Linked DNA regions of Homo sapiens: all the other regions are reported to be linked to region 3. The links are microRNA targets in miRTarBase. Many come from high-throughput screens and were not tested one by one. Region 3 holds a microRNA gene; each other region holds the end of a gene's coding sequence.

Region 1 (4,276 bases), not on the chromosome of region 3:
CCAAAAGACTTTAGTATACATCCTCCTCATTCTACCCTCAGGATTTGGATCTTTGCCCCTGATGGGTATCCATCCCCTTTGAAACTTTAGAAAGGCAGGTTATATACAGAATGTTCAACCTAAAGACATTTCCTTAAGTCATACTTTCATGCTTTCTAAACTATAATCACCCTTATCATCCCCTGCTGTTATGCTTTCCCTCTGCTCCCTGTGGCCTAATGTTCCTCCACCACCTTATTAACCTTCAGGATACTTTTCCCCTAGGCTGGGCAGGACAACACTATCCCCTTGGTCCACAAGCTCCCTCAAGGTTGGGGAATCTTTGTTTACTTAGCAAATACTGAACATAACCTTAAAGCGGTTACTTTTGAAAACTTCTCATGCTATTCTACCAACTTGGAGGCACCTATCCATGCTCATTCCCCTAATGTAGCCAATATGGTTATCTGCAATGTATTGGCATCTAAAAACTCCCTTATGAAACTGCCAGACTTGTTCTGGAACATTTCAATTACATGCAAAATTCAGGTTCTCAAGTTGGAACAAGTCTAATTGACACACCTGCATAGGTTTTAACCTTGCCCTCCCCCTACTTCCCAACAGATTTCCAAGTTTTTTGAGAAGGAACCTTGCTCTGGCCCAGGCTGGAGTGCAATGGCGCCATCTCGGCTCACTGCAACCTCTGCCTCCTGGGTTCAAGTGATTCTCCAGCCTCCTGAGTAGCTGGGATTACAAGCACCTGCCACCACACCCAGCTTTTTTGTATTTTTGGTAGAGACGGGGTTTCAGTTTGCCAGGCTGGTATCAAACCGTGACCTCAGGTGATCCACCCGCATTAGCCTCCCAAAGTGCTGGGATTACAGGTGTAAGCTACCATACCCAGATTTCCACGGCTTTTTTTTTAAGTCTCACTCTGTTACCCTGGCCGGAGTGTGGTGGCACGATTTCAGCTCACTGCAAGCTCCACCTCCCGGGTTCACGCCATTCTCCTGCCTCGGCCTCCTGAGTAGCTGGGACTACAGGTGCCTGGCTAACTTTTTTATATTTTTAGTAGAGACAGGGTTTCACTGTGTTAGCCAGGATGGTCTCGTGATCTGCATGCCTTGGCCTCCCAAAGTGCTAGGATTATAGGCTCACGCCTATATTACTATATAGTGGCCTATATTACAGGCCACTCCGCCTGGCCTCCAAATTTCCAAGTTTTTAAGTCTCCATGCAAACAGGCATAAGCAAGCACTCCTTGGCTCTACATTTGCAGGACAAGCTGGACCACCATTCAGATGTTGGTAGAAATGTAATCCAAGTGGCTATTCTCTATGCATGTAGCTCCTAGGTTCAAGAGCAGTGTGGTCTGCGGATTTTCTACACAACCTGCCATAAATGAAATTTAAGCCTTTGGAAATTTATAGCATTTTCAGCTAATTTGCATTATTTATCTCTGCAAGATATTGACTAGAAATCACGTTTCAGAACTTCTCAGATGAAAACATCATACAACCCTTAAAACTAAGCTCATAATTTAAAAATGTATGCAGATTAATAGGCTTAAATTGCCAGGACTTTAGATAGACATTACCACTTCCAGGTTAATACTTTTAGCGGTTTTTATGCCTTCAATGGTTTGAAGCCCTCAACCTTAGTTGAAAACTTAAAAATGGCATTGAATGGCTGCTGCAATAAGGACACATGAATTTTGGCTTAAGTGGACTAGGAGGACTAAATCTTGCTTAGGCTTTTAAAAAATGCCCACCCACTGGGTCTAGGGATTGAGGTTATTTTCCTGAATTATGGCTAATTATGGATTACAATTCAAGGTTAAAGATACACATATAGTATTCTCAGGTTATTCATATGATAGCATTTTTTAAGAGCCAAAGTCTCAGTCACCCAGGCTGGAGTGCAGTGGCTTGATAATGGTTCGCTACAGCCTCCAACTTCTATGTTAAAGTGATCCTCCTACCTCAGCCTTTCAAAGTGTTGGGATTATAGGCACGTACCTATGGCCCCAAAGCACTTTAACAAATGAGTAACAGACACAGTTAAGGTAGAACCTAGCATTTTATTTAGATCTTCATTAAACTGTTGGAATTGAGAACCAGACATACGTAATAAACCTCCAAAAATAGATCCTGAAAGGCACTTTCTGCTTAGGGCAAGCAGTCATGGAATAAGCATGTAAACAAGCTGGCTTCTCTGTACCACACCAGCCAAGTCAGCTTTCTCCATGGCCAGCCGCACCAGCTCTGCCCTCCCTTCTGTTAACACCAGCCAGACCCCCTGTAGGTCTAACCCAAGGTTTTTCTGTAGGACACCTTGGCCTACCTGGGAATGCTGGAAACATGTTGTTAAAGGAATCATGGTGTTGAGAGAAAAAAAAAAAATCTTTTAAAAGCTGCCATCTGAGGTGATGGCTTCTCTGTACTTACGCCATACCCCAGAATACAATAAATAAGCAATTAGAAAACGTTCAAGTATGAAGGGATTTCCTCCTCCCCGCCAAAAGCACTGCTCTCTGAAGGAAGCTGGTTTCTCTGTAGCTACACCAGCTGTTCAGAAAGCTCATTGGACCTGGTTTTGAAAATAAAACAAAGTTAAAACCCTGGGAGGAGTTATTGTGCAGTGTGGAGTACTCAGGCTTTCTTATAAAGAAAAAAAAAAGTTATCTGGTACCAAAGTGTGCAACCTACAGACCCTCAGGTACTGCCCTGTGACTTCTCTGTATGACATCACAAGGCTGCCAAGTGCCTGTTTTTCTAGAACTAGGAGTTGGTGAGGTTTGGCTAGTGCTGAAACCATGCATAGGATTGGTTTACTAAATTAAAACCTTATTACGTACGTCCTCCAAAAGACAGCTGAAAGTGGAGAGATTTTGATTTGGTGCTGTTAGAGGTGGCAATTAAGAGCATAAGCACCAGGGAGATGGTTTAATGGTAACTGCCTTTTTTGATGTCAGGCTGGAGCTCCAACTGGGAACTTGCGTTACATGCAAGATTGATTGGATAGGGAACACTCCCTGACAAAGAGCTACATAATTAGAAATGGATCAAGTTACAGGGAGGATAAGGGGAAGGCTTCACATTCATAATAGAGCTCAAGACATTACAAATTCATGCTGACAGGGCTGTGGCATTGCCAGACAGAGGCTATAAGTGGAACTACAAGTACTTTACGTGCACATCACAAGGACATTTTCAGCATCTGGTGGGGAAAGTCAATGCAATTATGACTTTGGAGCGTTGGGTGATAGGGCACAAAGGTTCAATTTCAAAGCATTATTTACTACAGTGTTGTTTCTAGGCAGTTACATGGATCACCTATGCTCACTAAATTCATTATAATGGTGAACAAAACACCTAGGGACAGAATAGCAAGCCCAACTTACAGTCCCCCACAAAAGCTAAAATTCATGTCATTGACTAGAGTGACTGCAACTGGTCAGGAGCTGAAAGAGGACAGGAAAATTTAGGAAGGAGGGCCCTTTCCCTCAGAGCTTGAAGGCTTCTCTGTAGCCTACGCCAACAAGTCTGGGGAAAAAAGGCTAACACTTTCAATATTTAAGCTTTTTGGGCACTTCCCATGGGAAGCTGTCCCTACCAAAGTGGCCATAGGCTGCAGTCCTCTGATAAATTGGCTTCTTCAGATCCAGATCCCTGGAATATACAAGTCCGTAACTTAATATGTAGCATTAAATTAAAATAAAGCAAAACAATCAGCAAGACTCATTTTCAAGAGCTCTGGCAAATGAGTTCTCTGGGATATGCTAGGAAAAAAATTTGTGGCAAAAGTGTTACTTCCCTGGTGTCCAAACTCCTTGCACAGTCCTTATTAGTAACTATAGTTGTTTTTCCGTCCCTGGCTCAACAAATACGAAAACTTGTCATTATTCTGAGAAATTTCAATTGTCAAAAAGCTCACCTGAGATCACACAATACTTACCAAGGTCCCGCCGCCCACACCCTACCATGGTTTTTACATTGCAACAAACCTTGAGCAACCCACTTTATCTCTATTTTCTTAACACCCTTAAGTAGAAGAGCACAAAGCTCAAATATCAAATCTGGAACATTCTCTAGAGTGGTTAGCCTAAGCCATGGAGCACCGTAATTTTAAATTTCTCAAATAACTAAGTCTTCACTAAGGCAGCAGTTCAAAACTGTTCCAGGAATTAAAATATATTCCCATTTGAGGAGTCTTCCTTCACACCTTCACCTCCTCAGCCTTAAGTATATACACACACACCCAACACCCTCAATACTTGACTAGCAACAGGCTTTAC
Region 2 (4,276 bases), not on the chromosome of region 3:
AGGTAATAACCCCTGGCTTACAGGGTTGTTTTGCAGATTACATTAAATAATTTAGGTATAATTCTTGGCACGGTGATTGGCACATAATGGGTATTTAACTATTAGTTGACTTTTCTGGGTACCTAAAAAAGAGGAAGGTTAGGGAAGATTTTTGTCCTTTGCTTACTCCTTCCTTTCCCAGACTTTGTGTAAAATACCTCTTACTTCCCAGGCTCTTTACTCTCCCTTCCAACCCAGATCCTGACGTGTGCATCTCTTTTGTGCAGGAGAATGTGATCCGAGAATTTAACTTAAATGAGCTATACCAGCGGGCCAAGAAACTATCAAAGGCTGGAGACAATATCCCTGAGGAGCAGCCTGTGGCTTCAACCCCCACCACAGTGTCAGATGGGGAAAACAAGAAGGATAAATAAGATCCTCACTTTGGCAGTGCTTCCTCTCCTGTCAATTCCAGGCTCTTTCCATAACCACAAGCCTGAGGCTGCAGCCTTTTATTTATGTTTTCCCTTTGGCTGTGACTGGGTGGGGCAGCATGCAGCTTCTGATTTTAAAGAGGCATCTAGGGAATTGTCAGGCACCCTACAGGAAGGCCTGCCATGCTGTGGCCAACTGTTTCACTGGAGCAAGAAAGAGATCTCATAGGACGGAGGGGGAAATGGTTTCCCTCCAAGCTTGGGTCAGTGTGTTAACTGCTTATCAGCTATTCAGACATCTCCATGGTTTCTCCATGAAACTCTGTGGTTTCATCATTCCTTCTTAGTTGACCTGCACAGCTTGGTTAGACCTAGATTTAACCCTAAGGTAAGATGCTGGGGTATAGAACGCTAAGAATTTTCCCCCAAGGACTCTTGCTTCCTTAAGCCCTTCTGGCTTCGTTTATGGTCTTCATTAAAAGTATAAGCCTAACTTTGTCGCTAGTCCTAAGGAGAAACCTTTAACCACAAAGTTTTTATCATTGAAGACAATATTGAACAACCCCCTATTTTGTGGGGATTGAGAAGGGGTGAATAGAGGCTTGAGACTTTCCTTTGTGTGGTAGGACTTGGAGGAGAAATCCCCTGGACTTTCACTAACCCTCTGACATACTCCCCACACCCAGTTGATGGCTTTCCGTAATAAAAAGATTGGGATTTCCTTTTGATTGCGCGTTTGTGTGTTTCTGTATTAGAAAAGCCTGACAACTGCAGAGGAATTGCCCATCTTAAGGGCAAAGGCCATCCTATTTGGTTTCACCAAATGCCGGGCATTGATCCCCAGGACTGGCAAGAGTTGGAGAAGTCTAGTTTCCATAAATCTAGAATAGCGGCCACATGTTGTTAGGTGGTGGGTTTACTCTGGGATTGGCCTGCGGTTGCCAGGGAGGAGAGTTTGGCGGCAGATGGTGGCACACAACATTTAGCGCCATGCAAAGGTACAGAAAAGATTGCGCGAAGCGAGGCTAGCAGTCGGACCTAGTCTCCGCCCCTTCCTGCTGTGTTCACCATCCCAGCGTCCCCTGTCCCCTCCACCCGAAGCGATGGGTGGTTCCGTCAGGCGCTTCCCGCACCTTCCCGCTCCCTGCTTGCAAAGTGGTTGTGCCCCAAGGTCCGCCTCCAGGCCACGTGGGTGCTGCGGGCCAAGCTTTCCCTTCCTTTGAGAGAGGTTTCCGCTGTAGGAGCAGAGCTTCCGGGCTGCGCTCTTCGTTGCCCAGTTTCCGCTCAGTGGTCGCGTCTCCGCCCCCCACCCACCAGTCCCGCTGCATTCTCGGCCGGGCTCTAGGCGCCATGGCTCCCCGCGGGAGGAAGCGTAAGGCTGAGGCCGCGGTGGTCGCCGTAGCCGAGAAGCGAGAGAAGCTGGCGAACGGCGGGGAGGGAATGGAGGAGGCGACCGTTGTTATCGAGCATTGGTGAGGGGCCTGGAGAGTAACGGGAGAGAGGGAACAGTGGCGCCGGGGGGGGCCAGGGGCCCCGGTTTCTAACCTCTCCGTCTCTCCCTAGCACTAGCTGACGCGTCTATGGGCGCAACGCCGCGGCCCTGAGCCAGGCGCTGCGCCTGGAGGCCCCAGAGCTTCCAGTAAAGGTGAACCCGACGAAGCCCCGGAGGGGCAGCTTCGAGGTGACGCTGCTGCGCCCGGACGGCAGCAGTAAGTGGGGACCTGGATGTGGGGGAGAGGGACGTGGGTGAAAGGGACGTGGGTTCCGAAGACAGGAAGCGCTATTCTTAGAAACCACGGCAGTCTCATGACTTCAGAGACGTGCTCGTGGGTTCCGAAGTATTGTAACTTCGCTTCATTCTGGCCTTTCAGGTGCGGAGCTCTGGACTGGGATTAAGAAGGGGCCCCCACGCAAACTCAAATTCCCTGAGCCTCAAGAGGTGGTGGAAGAGTTGAAGAAGTACCTGTCGTAGGGAGATTTGGGTAGAAGCCCTCATGCTGAGGTTTGAAATGGGAAGTGGGGGGCGCGACCGCTGTTGAGGAAGAGAAGGCATTGATCTTGGTGTGGCTACAAGTACCCACCTGGCGTGGGTAGCTCACGCCTGCAATCCCAGCACTCTGGGAGGTCGAGGCAGGAGTGGATGGCCAACACAGGGAGACCCTATTTGAAAACAAAAAACAAAAAAAAGACACAATATTGTTTTCTGTCTAGTGTGCCCTAAGTGGAATTTATGTCCTTTGGGAGACTGTAGTTGACTTGCCCTGGGGGTATGGACAAGTTTTCCATTTGGAAGTTTATTTCATGTTACTTCATTTATGCTTATCCCTACCCTCTTCTGTTTGGTTCTTGGGTGTTCTGTTACTGTCCTGTGTTAACACTGCATTACAATACCATTAAATTTGGTTACAAGGATTTTGACCTTGTCTTTGTCCCTAGTGCTTCATACAGTGCTTTGGCATGTTGTTCTGCACTTATTATGTTGAGTGAGATTTGGAGGAAGGATGCAATCCTTGAGCTTCAGGGTTTGTGAGTTCAAGGGTTGGGGAACATGTCTTCCTCAGTCCTTAAGATTGCCCAGATCCTTTCTCTAACCTTATTTCCCTTCTCATTTTTGCAGCTTTGTGTCCCTGGTGATGTTGGAACATTAATGATGGAACATGGCCAAACTTCAGTCATGATCCTGAAGCCATGGTTTCTTCCCTGCCAGAAATGAAGGTTCAGTTATGAGGCAACCCTCTAGTAAGGCATTGTAAAAGTTACTGGATTTGGTTTAATAAAAGTTGAAATAAAGTATTTGAGTAATAGAGTAAAACTTAATCTTAAGGGATGGACAAAGCCAGCCTTGTGGAGTTGGTAGTCCTTGTGTTTTTCATAGCCCAAGATAGCCATGTGACCTGGAACTTTTAAAAAAAAATTTTTTTTTAAGAGCCAGAGTCTCACTTTGTCACCCATGCTGGAGTATAGTGGTGCTATCTCGGCTCACTGCAACCATTGTCTCCCAGGTTCAAGCGATACTCCTGCCTCAGTCTCCTGAGTAGCTGGGATCACAGGTGCACACCACCACGCCTGGCTAATTTTTTTATTTTTATTTTTAGTAAAGGCGGGGTTTCACCATGTTGGCCAGGCTGGTCTCAAACTCCTGACCTCAAGTGATATGCCTGCCTTGACCTCCCAAAGTGCTGGGGTTACAGGCATGATGAGCCACCGCACCTGGCCTGACCTGCAACTTTTATGATCTCTGGTAAAACATGAGAAATACTTGTAAAAATTATGGGAGCAAAGTAAATAATTTATTTTTTAAAAAAGCAACTGTATCTTTTTCAACTTACTTTTTGGAAGTAATGATGGAAGTACATCTTCTTGGCCCCTGCAGAGGTTTTAGCTAGACTTCCTAATACTGGCAGTGAATAAGCCCCACGTTGGGTGCTGGACAGCATCCATCACTCCCACCCACTTAGTATTCCACCCAACACTGCTTCACACCTTCCTCTGGAACATTTTCTTAAACAATACCCCACCACAGAGGAGGGTGTTCTTTCTCAGCTTTTCCTAAATTACCAGTGACTGGATGCCTTATGACCTGAGAGATCTGGCCTTGGCTGTTACCTATGACCCACCAGAATTGGGGAGCACACAGTTTGTTTCAGTTGTCACTAACCGGAAAATAGATTACAAATAAGATGGTACAAGTTCATAATTTTCTATCTATGGTACCCTTGGCTTCTGCCTGGCTTCTGAGGCTTAGGGAAGGGAGGAAGGGACCTACAAAGAGCCAGGGTACACCTGCCTCTTGTGCTGAGGGCACGTGCCAGCTTCTCTGCCAGTAAGCCTTTTGCTAGCTAACATTTCCCACCCTCCCAAGG
Region 3 (4,276 bases):
CATGTCTCCATTAGCCCTATATGGAAACTTTTCATAACACCTATTACTGCTTTTTTCAAATTCTTGTTTTCTCCTTTGTATTTCTTGAAACCTGGAGTTTTTATATCCCCAGCATCTAACCAAGACTATGCCTGGCACATGATAAGCGCAAAACAAATATTTTTTTTTCATACATACATATTTTCTACAAATTTTTTATTTAAATATTTTTAATTATTCAGATACTTAGCAAGTTTGGCTTGGTTGTTATATGTGTGGTTGGTGGAGGTGAGTAGGGTATTCCTGAGCAGTGACCTACACTGACAGTGGTGAACTGCCTAGGACTCTTATGTTCATGAGCTTCTATAAAGCAAACTTTTAATTAATGTTGACATTTGATGGTTACTTTGAAAAATGTTGAAATTTTCAAAAGCATGAATTACTTGATTGATATTATGCTTACTAGGCTGGGAAGATTTATAGATTCTTTTCATTAATTATAAATGAAACCTTTCTTTTTGCTCTTTAGATAAAAGTTAAAAGGTGGGATTCTGGTTATTTTGCAAAGGAGAGTAACTTTATTGTTTGTTTTTCATTTTTTATTGGTGTGGTTTTCTTTCAGAGTTGAACCTAATATGTATAATATAGAATTTAGTTTTATAAACATTCTTGGACTTCAGCAGTCATATGAAAAAATACTTACTTGGACAAATATCAGAGGAAAAAACACTCAGGTTAAACTCATTTAATGATTGCCTTTGAACTTTTATTTTAAGTTCAGGGGTACAAGGGCAGATTTGTAACATTGGTAAGCTTGTGTCATAGGATATGAGATTATATGAGTATAAAGTGGGAAGCTAAGTAACTGAGGATATCTTTAGAACAAATTATCCCAGCAACACTTATATACTGTGATATGGATGTGAGAATTACATATAGTTTTATTATTTATTCTACTCCCTACTCCTGACATCTATATTAATAACCATGCCCTTTTATTTTGATGAGCAGAACCCTGTTTTTTCATCCTGCATAATGTCATGCTAGTTATTGTATTAGGAATTCTTTTAAATGAAATTTACTGGTATATAATATAGAAAGCATGCATTTATTTTTAAGTTTTATTTACTTAAAATAAATGTTCAGTGTTTCTTGTGTGTTTCAGCTAAAAGAGGGTGGTGCAAAACTGAGCATATTCTTCAATTGATTGTGAACTAGATGGAAATACTTCCTCAACTTTTGGTGGCCAAAGGGTACTGTTTTTGTTGGTTCATAGGTACCAGGCTTTACACAAACTGTGAAGTGCTGTGGATTTCTTTGTGAATCACCATATCTAAGCTAATGTGGTGGTGGTTTACAAAGTAATTCATAGTGCTTCACAGGTGCTTCTGCAGTTGATCTACACCATGAAGCCTAAGATTCCTTTACTGAGCCATTGAGAACAAGCCACTTTGTATTACAAGACACACAAAGTCAAGAGATCCCTGGTAAATATACTCTAGAATCCTTCTATTTGGTGCTTAGTGTTAACAGTGATCAAACCTGTGTCAAACACACCAGAAATTATGGTTACTTTACCTAAATATACATGTTTTACATAGTTGCTGTCTCTGTCTCTACTGTTCTTTTTTTGAAAAGTAATTTGTAATATTTCTTGGTTAAAAAAACATGATACATCAGAAACATTAATTGAATCAGCCCCTTAAATCCTAAGCATACCATTTTGAAGTTTAAATATCATATTTTATTTGGATTATTATGCCCAATTAATATATTAATTAAATAGTTTGGTAAATGATCAGGGGCTTGAAGACATCATTGTTATGCAGTACTTTTGTAAAAAGCAACATTTTATTTTAACAAGAAAAACATTGGTGTGGGCAAAAAAAATCACCTTAACATACCAAATTGTACATTTTGATGGCATATATTAAAATTAGGTATTCACTGGGCATTCATTTTCATTTACTCTTCTGGAAACAGTATCTATAGTCCTATTCTATGACAGAAAAGATTGTGTAACCTTTACAAGGTCACAAAAGCCTAATTGTTGACTAGTAATTGCTTATTAAAATAAATGGAACTTTGTGGTCATTTCTGTCATCAGGATTACCAAGAATGGATTATCCCTGACCATAAATCAAACAATTGATGATTAACTATTTTAATAACTGATTAAGCTTTCAAATAGTCATTTTGGTTTTACCGTTTTTTATTTATTTCCAAGGCTAGAGCGTAGGTCTTATTTAAGTTCAATGGTATGACTATAAGACTGTCAGAACTATGAAAACTTCTGACCTTTAATTTCTTAAGTGACACATCTGGACACCTAAGTGACAGTGGTACAGGCTTCTGAAATTACTTTTGCATCATCATTGAATATATCTATTGTATTCATTATGACTTTATTTTGTCCTGTTATGTTTCATTCCTTAGAAGTGGATTATGCATATGCTCTATAAGGTTGGGTGACTTTAAATAAATTAGCATACTAATTTTTAAGCCCTTCTGTTAGATAAAAGAAAATCAGTATATTATTTTTCAACATATAAATGACCAAAAGAATGAATCAATATGTATACTTTTAACCTTAAAATATATGTGTATAAATATGATTGGAAATGCTTTACCTAAGAAATATCTTGCTACTCTAATTTAATTTGAACTATGATACAAACATGTTATTCTTATTTCCTAGCCTTTAATTCTTCAGTATTTATTATTACCATTCCTTGTCTGATACATATGTAACCTTATTTTTCATAGGACTGTATGTTCATAAGCAAAATCCACAGAGCTCTGGGATTTCCTGTGCTTTTGTTGGGTGCTACTTTGCTGATGTGTGAGGACAGGTGGGAAAAGAGTCTGAGAAGACAGGTTTCTGAAATTAATTTGTCCTAGAGCTCTTTGATTTTTCTGTTTTATGAAAGGGGGCACCTGTAAAATTTCCTTTGAGCCGAAGCTTATGTTTTTAATGATAATATGTAGAACTGCTGATATATGAATTTAGAAGGAAGTCACAATATTTTTTCTTAAGATAATTTTTAGTTTACGGGAGATATAATGGGATGTGCTAATGGACTAATAAGCATATCTCATAATCATGTACCTATATCCTTGTATCCTAATTTTAATCCCAACTTCTTTATATTTATTTCACTACCGCTTTTTTTATTTTTAAGATAAATACAGGTTTACAAACAATGAATTAATTTTTAGTGTAGGTTTTGTGTTTTTTGGTAAGAGACAAAAAACATATGTTGCCCTGGCTGGGGTGCAGTGGTGCAATCATAGCTCACTTCAGCCTTGATTTCCTGGGTTCAAGCAATCATCCCACTTCAGTCTCCTGAGGAGCTGGGACTACAGTGCCTGCCACCATGCCCAGCTAATTTATTTTATTTTGTTTTATTTTATTTTATTTTATTTTTGTAGCAACACAATCTCACTAGATACTCATGCTTGAGTGCAGTTATGAGTAGAACATGTGTTCAAAGTGAACCTGAGGTCTCCTGTTATGGACAAGGTAATATCAAGCTTCCCTAATTTCTGTGAGAACTATATGAGAATAGATATGTTTAAATGAATGTTATCTGTGAGAATTTTCTAGAGAACAGAACCAACAAGATTTTTGTGTGTATATATATATTAAATATGTATATATATTAATAATATATATTATATATAGTATATTATATAAAATATATAATATATAAAATATATAATATATAAATATTATATATTTTATATAATATTGTATAAAAAATATATATTATATATTTATATAATATTATATAAAAAATATATAATATATAAAATATATTAATATAAATATATTTTATATATTTATATAATATAAATTATATAAAAATTTATATAATTTATATTATATAAATATATTTTATATATTTATATAATTTATATTATATATTTATATATTAATAATACATATTATACATTTATATATTAATAATATGTATTATATAATATATTATATTATATATTAATAAATATAATATATTATAGATTTATATATTAATGATATATAATATATTATATATATTATTTTTTACCTTTTTTTATTTATAAGGCTAGAGCTTAAGTCTTATTTAACTTCAATGCTATGACCACAAGACTGTCAGAACTCTGAAAACTTCTGACCTTTAGTTTCTTAAGTGACACATTTGTACAACTAAGTGACAGTGATACAGACTTCGGAAATTGCTTTTGCATCATCATTGACTATATCTATTGTATTCATTTTGACTGCATTTTGTCCTGTTATGTTTCATTCTTTAGA
Region 4 (4,276 bases), not on the chromosome of region 3:
AACCAGTCTTAGAGGTAGGGTGTCTGAGGTCCAGTGAGGGACACAAGTAGGAGGGAGCCCAGATCTTGTTCCCTTTACCTTGCCTATATTTCTTAACACCACTTCAGCAGTCTCATATCTGGCTTTTTTGACTTTCCTCTTCTCTGGGTCTGTAGAGGGCCTTGGAGTGACACCCTGACCCCCATCCACTAGTACTTGAAGGCCAGTGGTGGCAGAAGCCACAGAAACAAGAAGCCCAGTGAGATGGCTAAGCTGCCCAGCATGTAACTTAAATCCCTGTTCATTCCCCATTCCTTTAGCTGCTGGAGCCAGTTCTGCTTCTCGGCAAGGAGCGATTTGCTGGTGTAGACATCCGTGTCCGTGTAAAGGGTGGTGGTCACGTGGCCCAGATTTATGGTGAGTCCCAGGAACTGGGCGCATGGAGGAGGTGGCTCTGGGAGGGAGGCCTTCACAGCGCTCCTGTACCCTTTAATTGTGTGTCTTTCTCACAGCTATCCGTCAGTCCATCTCCAAAGCCCTGGTGGCCTATTACCAGAAATGTGAGTGAGCATGGGTCCTTCCCATGAGGTAGATGGGTGTGTGGGGATCAAGTCAAGGACTCTGTGTGATTATCTAAATCCTCGTCCCTGCTCTTCTTGCCAGATGTGGATGAGGCTTCCAAGAAGGAGATCAAAGACATCCTCATCCAGTATGACCGGACCCTGCTGGTAGCTGACCCTCGTCGCTGCGAGTCCAAAAAGTTTGGAGGCCCTGGTGCCCGCGCTCGCTACCAGAAATCCTACCGATAAGCCCATCGTGACTCAAAACTCACTTGTATAATAAACAGTTTTTGAGGGATTTTAAAGTTTCAAGAACTGTGTGTGGCCTTATGTGTTGGTATTGGATGTTTAACCAGACAGAAATCAGTAAACATCCTGGACCTATTGCCAGTCTGGATTTTGACCCTCCCCAGAAGTGGTCGCGCTGGGCTTGGTGTGGGTGAGTGGAAGCAGAAGGCAGGGGGTCTCTGTCTCTACACCTCCAGTAGAGTCCAGTGTGCAGGCAAAGCTGAGATGGCAGTCGTTTGGGGCCATTAGTGGCTGCAGACCTTGGCGGATATATGGCTCATCCTTGTGGATGTCTATTTTTTTCAAGCCCAGCCTCCCAAATAGCTTGGATTACAGGTACCCACCACCACGCCATGCTAATTTTGTATTTTTAGTATCGATGGGTTTCACTGTGTTGGTCAGGCTGGTCTCAAACTCCTGACCTCAAGTGATCCGCCTTCCCGGGCCTCCCAAAGTGCTGGGATTACAGGCGAGAGCCACCACCCCCAGCTGAATTTTTGTTTTTGTAGAGACAGGTCTCACTATGTTGCCCAGGCGTGGTCTCCTGACCTCAGGCAATCCTCCTGCCTCATCTTCCCAATGTGTCCAGGTTACAGGTGTGAGCTACCATGCCTAGCCAATAATCTTTAATACAAAGAAAACAAGGAGAGTCGGGCACGGTGGCTCACGACTGTAATCCCATCACTCTGAGAGGCCAAGGCTGGTGGATTACAAGGTCAGGAGTTAAAGATCAGCCTGGCCAAGATGGTGAAACCTCATCTCTATTAAAAGTACAAAAATTAGGTATGGTGGCAGGCGCCTGTAATCCAGCTACTTGGGAGGCTGAAGGAAAGAATTGCTTGAACAGGCGCCTGCCACACCCAGCTAATTTTTTTTTTTTTAAGTAGAGACAGGGTTTCAACATGTTGGCAAGGTTGGTCTTGAAATCCTGACCTCAAGTGATCACCCGACTCTGCCTCCTAAAGCGCTGGGATTATAGGCGTGAGCCACTGCACCCAGCCTAATTTTTGTATTTTTAGTAGAGATGGGGTTTCACCATGTTGGCAAGGCTGGTCTTGAACTCCTAACCTCAAGTGATCCTCCTGCCACAGCCTCCCAAAGTGCTGGGATTACAGGCATGAGCCACCATGCCGAGCCCAAAGTGGCATTTTGGACAGGTAACCGGGCTGTGGAAGACCCCAGGTTCTTTTTTTTTCTTTTTCTTTTTTTTGAGACAGAGTTTTGCTCTTGTATCCCTGGCTGGAGTGCAATGGCGTGATCTCGGCTCACCGCAACCTCCGCCTCCCGGGTTCAAGCAATTCTCCTGTCTCAGCCTCCCGAGTAGCTGGGATTACAGGCGCCTGCCACCTTGCCCAGCTAATTGTTCTATTTTTAGTAGAGACGGTTTCACCACGTTGGCCAGGCTGGTCTGGAACTCCTGACCTCAGGTAATCTACCCGCCATGGCCTCCCAAAGTGCTGGGATTACAAGTGTGAGCCGCCACACCTGCCCCCCCCCCCCCGCCTTTTTTTTTTTTGGAGACGGAGTCTTGCTCTGTCACCCAGGCTGGAGTGTAGCTGCACAATCTCAGCTCACTGCAACCTCCGCCTTCCGGGTTCAAGCAATTCTGCCTCAGCCTCCTGAGTAGCTGGGACTACAGGCAAGTGCCACCACACCTGACTGATTTTTGTATTTTTAGTAGAGACGTGGGTTTCACTATGTTATCCAGGCTGATCTTGAACTCCTGACCTCAGGTAGATCCCCCTGCCTTGGCCTCTCGAAGTGCTGGGATTAACAGGCGTGAGCCACCGCGCCCGACCTAGAGCCCAGGTTCTTGACTACTAGTTTAGGTTGTCACAGATCTGCTCAAGAGGCCCCATCTCTACCCTGTGGCCCCTCAACATGAGGAGCTAAGGAGTCAGGGTGGCCGCTTGTGGGAAAAGCACAAGAGGCTGTGGGACTCAAGCGGTGCCTGACAGCCTGGAGGAGTCAGGTGGACTCCTTGGGGGAGAGGACATGGGAACCAGGGTCTGCTGGCCGGTAGGAAGAGTAGCCAGGGAGACCATGTCTGTGATGAGTTGTTTTCGGGTGTCTGTGGCCTCAACTTGCTCATTCACTTTCCTTGAACACCTGTGCCGGGCCATGTGCTCGTCATGGGGCACTGAGTGACCACAGCCCTCTTCCCCCTCCCAAGGAGTCACAAATGACGCAAGGGTTGCTGCCGGTGCTGGAAGAGGAGTTGGGCTTCAAAGCACAGTGCATCCTCAGCGTTTTGTATAGGTGCTTGGAAACGGACTTAAGCAAAACAAGCAGATCCTGTAATAACAGTCCTTTAAACAAACTGGTTTCCTTATACGTCGTTTCGCTTAAGGTCACGGTTTCCCAGAACCTATTGATGACGTTAAGTGAGGACTTCGTTGAGTGGCTAATGACTCATAGGAAGCGAGTGAACTTCATTGTTTGGGGAGCGCAGAGATTTCTACTTCCTAGTTCCAGCCTCTGCAGCCAATAGGGAAGTCCCGCACCTAAATGCTCAGGGGGAATGTTTTACAACTTGAGATTTTCTGTCCACTTGCCCACTTTCTATGTATCTACCCTAGTTAATACAGTAGCCAGTGCTCAGAAGCCATGTATGGCTACCAAGCGGGGCTGCACATATTAGAACATTTCCGTCATCAAGGAAGGTTATATGGGACAGCACTGACACAGGATACATAAAATGAGTCGGGGGCTGGGCCCAGTGGCTCACGCCTGTAATCCCAGCACTTTGGGAGGCCAAGGCAGGTGGATGGCTTGAGGTCAGGAGTTCGAGACCAGCCTTGCCAGCATGGCGAAACCTGGTCTCTACTAAAAATACAAAAAAAAAAAAAAAGGCTGGGCATGGTGGCGGGTGCCTGTCGTCCCAGCTGTTTGGGAGGCTGAGGCAGGAGAATGGCTTGAACCCGGGAGGTGGAGGTTGCAGTGAGCTGAGAGATTGCACCACTGTACTCTGGCCTGGACGACAGAGCGAGACTCCGCCTCAAAAAAAAAAAAAAAAAAAAGCCAGGCGTGGTGGCTCACATCTGTAATCGCAGCACTTTGGGAGGCCAAGGCGGGTGGATCACCTGAGGTCAGGAGTTGGAGACCAGCCTGACCAATATGGTGAAACCCCGTCTTTACTAAAAATACAAAAACTATCTGGGTGTGGTGGCGTGTGCCTGTAGTCCCAGCTACTCAGGAGGCTGAGACAGGAAAATTGCTTGAACCCTGGAGGTAGAGGTTGCAGTGAGCTGAGACCTTGCCGCTGCACTCCAACCTGAGCCACAGAGCAAGGGTCCGTCTCAAAAAAGAAAAAAGGCCAGGCACGGTGGCTCATGCCTGTAATCCCAGCACTTTAGGAGGCCGAGGTGGGTGGATCACGAGGTCTGGAGTTTGAGACCAGCCTGGCCAACATGGTGAAACCCTGTTTCTACCAAAAATACAAAAAAATT
Region 5 (4,276 bases), not on the chromosome of region 3:
ACGGGCAGCTTCCCAGAGCTGCTCCAGAAAGGACAGACGCCAAGCCCACGGCTTTCCCGTGTCAGGTGCTCACGCAGCGTTGTGGGCGGCGGCCGGGCCGCAGAGAGCGCCGGAAGCAGCGCGCAGTAGAGCTGTCATTCATCTGCGGCACGTGCGGGAAGGCGCTCAGCTGCCACAGCCGGCTGCTCGCTCACCAGACGGTGCACACGGGAACCAAGGCCTTCGAGTGCCCCGAGTGCGGCCAGACCTTCCGGTGGGCTTCAAACCTGCAGCGCCACCAGAAGAACCACACGCGCGAGAAGCCCTTCTGCTGCGAGGCCTGCGGGCAGGCGTTCAGCCTGAAGGACCGCCTGGCTCAGCACCGCAAGGTCCACACCGAGCACAGGCCCTACTCGTGTGGCGACTGTGGGAAAGCCTTCAAGCAGAAGTCCAACCTTCTCAGACACCAGCTGGTGCACACCGGGGAGCGGCCGTTCTACTGCGCGGACTGCGGCAAAGCCTTCCGGACCAAGGAGAACCTCAGCCACCACCAGAGGGTCCACAGCGGGGAGAAGCCCTACACCTGTGCCGAGTGCGGCAAGTCCTTCCGGTGGCCCAAGGGCTTCAGCATCCACCGGAGGCTGCACCTGACGAAGAGGTTCTACGAGTGCGGCCACTGTGGGAAAGGCTTCCGTCACCTGGGGTTCTTCACGCGGCATCAGAGGACTCACAGGCACGGGGAGGTGTAGGGGCGCCCGAAGAGTGGGGTGCTGCGCCTCTGCGGGAGTACTGGGTCCTGAGGGAGAGCTGCAGTGAGAAGTTGCTCTTCAGCCTGGAAAATCAACCTGAATTCAGAGAAGCCTTCTTAGTCCTCAGAGCTCCCCAGTCCCCCGAGAAGTTTACTGGGAAAACTGCCAGGTGGGAGAAGCAGAGCCATGGGTACGCCGGAGATGGCGGGGGCTCTGGAGATGGCGGGGGCTGCGCCCCGGCGCCGGGCATCCTGGGGATGTGCTGAGAGTGTGCGCGACCCCGGAGCCACGTGCCAGGCCGGGCTCAGAGGCGGAGAAGCCTGCCTGGTGCCCACAGCCGTCTGGCTCAGGGACTCCACCCTGGCCCCGAGTCGCCGTCTGCTGGGCCTTTCCTTCCTGGCTCTGCACCCCATGCTGGCTGCCCGGTCTGGCTTCCCTTCTTGTCTCTGTCTTGGGCGAGGCAGCTGTGAGCATTGCACAGAGGCAAAGACCCTCCTGCAGCCTCTGCGCTGGGCCGTAGAAACAAGAGCCTTTGTAATACTGAACCTCATTCAAGGATTAGGAGTGGTGGTTAGGTCAGGGCCACCCCCAGTGCTGCAGGAACGGCCTCCACCCAGCTCTGTTGGTCAGAGCCTGGGTCATGCACCTGGAGTTGGGAGATCAAGTTGGGTCTCAGGGCAGTGAGGTGGCCATATCCACCACATCGCATTTCGTGGGGGAAGAGGTGACCTCTTTGTTTTAAACTTAAGGTGTCTGCTTATCCAGCCAGAAATAAAAATCTGCCAGTGGTGTTCCCAAGGGAAGACCCCCGTGGGAATGGGTCGGGACACTGCCGTGTTTCAGGTTAGCCAATTATTTTTGCTTTTGCCTGTTTTTCTTTAAGAATTGCAGCCAGGCCAGGCGTGGTGGCTCACGCCTGAAATCCCAGCTACTCGGGAGGCTGAGGCAGGAGAATCGTTTGAATCCGGGAGGTGGAGGTTGTGGTGAGCCAAGGTTGCGCCATTGCACTCCAGCCTGGGCAGTAAGAGTGAAACTCCGTCTCAAAAAAAAAATTCCAGCCAACAGATGCATATGTAATGTTGGAATCAGAAACGAGTTTACAAGAAATAGGGGGATGAGGAGAAGGTTGAACACACCGAGAGGAAGCCCTGAGCCAGATCCGGCTGGAGATGCCACCAGACGGCGACGTTTCTGTGGGAAGACGGGCACGCAGAAAGGCCGAGGGGGCTGTGTGTGACCCTGGTAGGAGCAAACCGAGTGCGAAGTCACTTTTGAGACAATCATGGAAATGTGGGCACGGGCCGTGAGTCGGGTGGGTAGGCCGTGAGTCGGGTGGATGGACTGAGTCGGGTGGGTGGGCCGTGAGTCGGGTGGATGGACTGAGTCGGGTGGGTGGGCCGTGAGTCGGGTGGATGGACTGAGTCGGGTGGGTGGGCCGTGAGTCGGGTGGATGGACTGAGTCGGGTGGGTGGGCCGTGAGTCGGGTGGATGGACTGAGTCGGGTGGGTGGGCCGTGAGTCGGGTGGATGGACTGAGTCGGGTGGGTGGGCCGTGAGTCGGGTGGATGGACTGAGTCGGGTGGGTGGGCCGTGAGTCGGGTGGATGGACTGAGTCGTGTGGGTGGCCGTGAGTCGGGTGGGTGGGCTGTGAGTCGGGTGGGTGGCCGTGAGTTGCGTGGTGGGCCGTGAGTTGCGTGGGTGGGCCGTGAGTCGGGTGGGTGGGCCGTGAGTCGGGTGGGGGTGCGGAATTGGCTGCTAGCGGTGATGGTGACACAGGGTTACGGAGGAATCCTCACTCAGATGCATTTGGACGTCTTTGTGGGGAAATGACGTGGCGCCTGGGATGTACTTTACGATTCTAATAAAGAGGAGAAAGACACAACAGTATTGGCTGAATGTTGACAGCTGTTGAAGCCGGGAGGTTGGTGTGCTTAAAAGTTCCCCAAATCTTTTATTTGCAGCATGAGTATGAGTTTCTTCGTGCTCACGGAAGATTGTAGAGAGCAGCTGTCGGTCATGGAGTCACAGGGCTGCCTTACCAGGACACCACCGGCAGCCCCACAGACAACACAGGTTTATTCTCTCCAGCTCTGCAGGCTGGAAGTCCGAGGTAGAGGTGCCAACAGGGTCCGTTTCCGGCGAGCGCCTCCTGGTTCAGAGGCATCCTCATGTCAGGAGGGGCTTTGGTGTCACCTTTTCCTTGTGAGGGCCCGGATCCCATGACCCCTATCACCCCATCGAAGCCAAATCACCTCCCAGAGACCTCCTCATACCATCACGTCGGGCCTAGGGCTTCCACATGGGAATTTCAGAGTGACCATTCAGCCCGTAGCAGAAGCTCCTCTGGGTCTGTCCTGGCCCACAGACCCTGTGTAGGAAAAGCACTTGCCCCTGCGGGGCAGGCCCTGGCAGAGCCCGGTGAGGCAGTGAGGGCCCTGCAGGATAAGTGGAAATCTCCCCAGGGGGGATATGGGGGTGCCTTTCTCTTACAGAGTCCAGGCTGGTAAAAGCGCATGTGTGTTTCGTGTCTGGTTTGTCCCCTGCCCAGCGGGCGCCGTTGGAAGGGCCTTCAGGTGCTTGAGCACAGGTGGGGACGGAGCAGCTGGTGTCTCGGCAGTAGATGCGGCGGATCATAAGGACTTGGGTTTTGAGCGCCCTGCAGGAAGCCACTGGCCGCGTCCAGGGTCACCTGTGCCTGGTCGTTAGTCCCTCACAATGCTGTCACTTTGTGACGCTCTTGTGCAGGATTAAATGTGAACAGCAGAGACGTGGGTGATGCGCTGCCTCGTCAGATGATGGTCAGTTGTCCAAGCGGGCTGCCTTGCTCTTGGTGGCCTCATCATCCAGGGCTCACACACTGGATGGTTGGGCCACAGTCGCGGTACCCCCCGGGCTGCAGGCTTTCCACCCTGCTTAGCAGGGCTCCAGGGCTCCGGGTAGAGCAGGGGGTCCCTCCCTTGGCACTTCCCCAGGGAGGAGCACGACCGTGCTCAGCTGCGGTCAGGCTGCTGCTCTTAGTTGTCTTTCCTTCTAACACTCAGGCTTCCCTTCCTGCCTCCTGGGTCGCTGAAGAAGGTCAGGTCCACAGAAAAGGCCTGGGGAGAGAATGGTGGTGAGGAGCCCATGGGGGTGTGAGGGGCCGGGAGGCTCTGCATCTTGCCCTGTTGGCCTCCTCACCACCCAGGCGGGGGTGGGGTGACAGAAGGGGCTCACAGCAGGTGTCCCGTAAGGAGCATCTTCCTTCCTGGGGCCAGCAGCCGTCACTCCCTGTGAGCCTGTAGAGCCGAGTTTTCTCTGCATTTATCTTGGGCAGAGAATGCATGAAGCTACTTCGCGGCCAGAATGGGTGCACAGCAGGGTCCGTTGACAGCCATGCCTGTGACCTAGCCTTCCACCCCTCTGTCTCCAGGGGACACTTGCCTGGCCTTTGTGTTAGCGCTCAGCACACATGTGTCCAGTGTAAAGTCCACCAAGATTAGCAGGGCATGGTAGCTGCCGCCTGTAATCCCAGCTTCTCAGGAGTCTGAGGCAGGAGAATTGCTTGAACCT

Evidence for each region. The annotated mature microRNA hsa-miR-876-5p reads UGGAUUUCUUUGUGAAUCACCA and lies in region 3 at 1,288-1,309, shown strand. An mRNA with a match to its seed (bases 2 to 7 or 8) in the 3' UTR can be bound and repressed. Matches are read on the target gene's strand: a 7mer-m8 pairs with bases 2 to 8, a 7mer-A1 pairs with bases 2 to 7 and ends in A, and an 8mer does both.
Region 1: miRTarBase lists MAT2A as a target of hsa-miR-876-5p. Seed matches in the 3' UTR shown: 7mer-m8 at 2,480-2,486.
Region 2: the mRNA of TMX2 is a reported target of hsa-miR-876-5p. Seed matches in the 3' UTR shown: 7mer-m8 at 1,051-1,057.
Region 4: miRTarBase lists RPS16 as a target of hsa-miR-876-5p. The part of its 3' UTR that is shown has no 7-base or 8-base seed match.
Region 5: the mRNA of ZNF707 is a reported target of hsa-miR-876-5p. The part of its 3' UTR that is shown has no 7-base or 8-base seed match.

Annotation. Positions count from the first base shown.
Region 1 is chr2:85,543,044-85,547,319 of GRCh38, reverse strand. MAT2A (methionine adenosyltransferase 2A) reads right to left here. Exons shown (of 9, transcript NM_005911.6): 9 at 2,039-3,650. The coding sequence ends at 3,548. GGCX (gamma-glutamyl carboxylase) reads left to right here. Exons shown (of 15, transcript NM_000821.7): 15 at 1-2,600. Among named protein-coding and RNA genes, the nearest start is that of MAT2A, 6.0 kb to the right of the region's middle.
Region 2 is chr11:57,739,833-57,744,108 of GRCh38, forward strand. TMX2 (thioredoxin related transmembrane protein 2) reads left to right here. Exons shown (of 8, transcript NM_015959.4): 8 at 267-1,141. The coding sequence ends at 413. It overlaps SELENOH (selenoprotein H), which reads left to right and starts at 1,659. Exons shown (of 4, transcript NM_170746.4): 1 at 1,659-1,885; 2 at 1,977-2,122; 3 at 2,285-2,415; 4 at 3,031-3,718. The coding sequence starts at 1,764. The coding sequence ends at 2,385. BTBD18 (BTB domain containing 18) reads right to left here. Exons shown (of 3, transcript NM_001145101.3): 3 at 3,682-4,276. All of the region lies in intron 2 of TMX2-CTNND1 (TMX2-CTNND1 readthrough (NMD candidate)), which reads left to right. RefSeq lists enhancers at 1,361-1,480, 1,801-1,850, 2,001-2,170.
Region 3 is chr9:28,860,708-28,864,983 of GRCh38, reverse strand. It overlaps MIR876 (microRNA 876), which reads left to right and starts at 1,278; the gene lies at 1,278-1,358. The region is part of intron 2 of LINGO2 (leucine rich repeat and Ig domain containing 2); the gene reads left to right.
Region 4 is chr19:39,429,785-39,434,060 of GRCh38, reverse strand. RPS16 (ribosomal protein S16) reads left to right here. Exons shown (of 5, transcript NM_001020.6): 3 at 300-396; 4 at 492-539; 5 at 643-924. The coding sequence ends at 788. Among named protein-coding and RNA genes, the nearest start is that of RPS16, 4.0 kb to the left of the region's middle. RefSeq lists an enhancer at 2,498-2,617.
Region 5 is chr8:143,693,803-143,698,078 of GRCh38, forward strand. It overlaps ZNF707 (zinc finger protein 707), which reads left to right. Exons shown (of 6, transcript NM_001100598.2): 6 at 1-1,583. The coding sequence ends at 728. LINC02878 (long intergenic non-protein coding RNA 2878) reads left to right here and starts at 3,313. Exons shown (of 2, transcript NR_015445.1): 1 at 3,313-3,839; 2 at 4,137-4,276.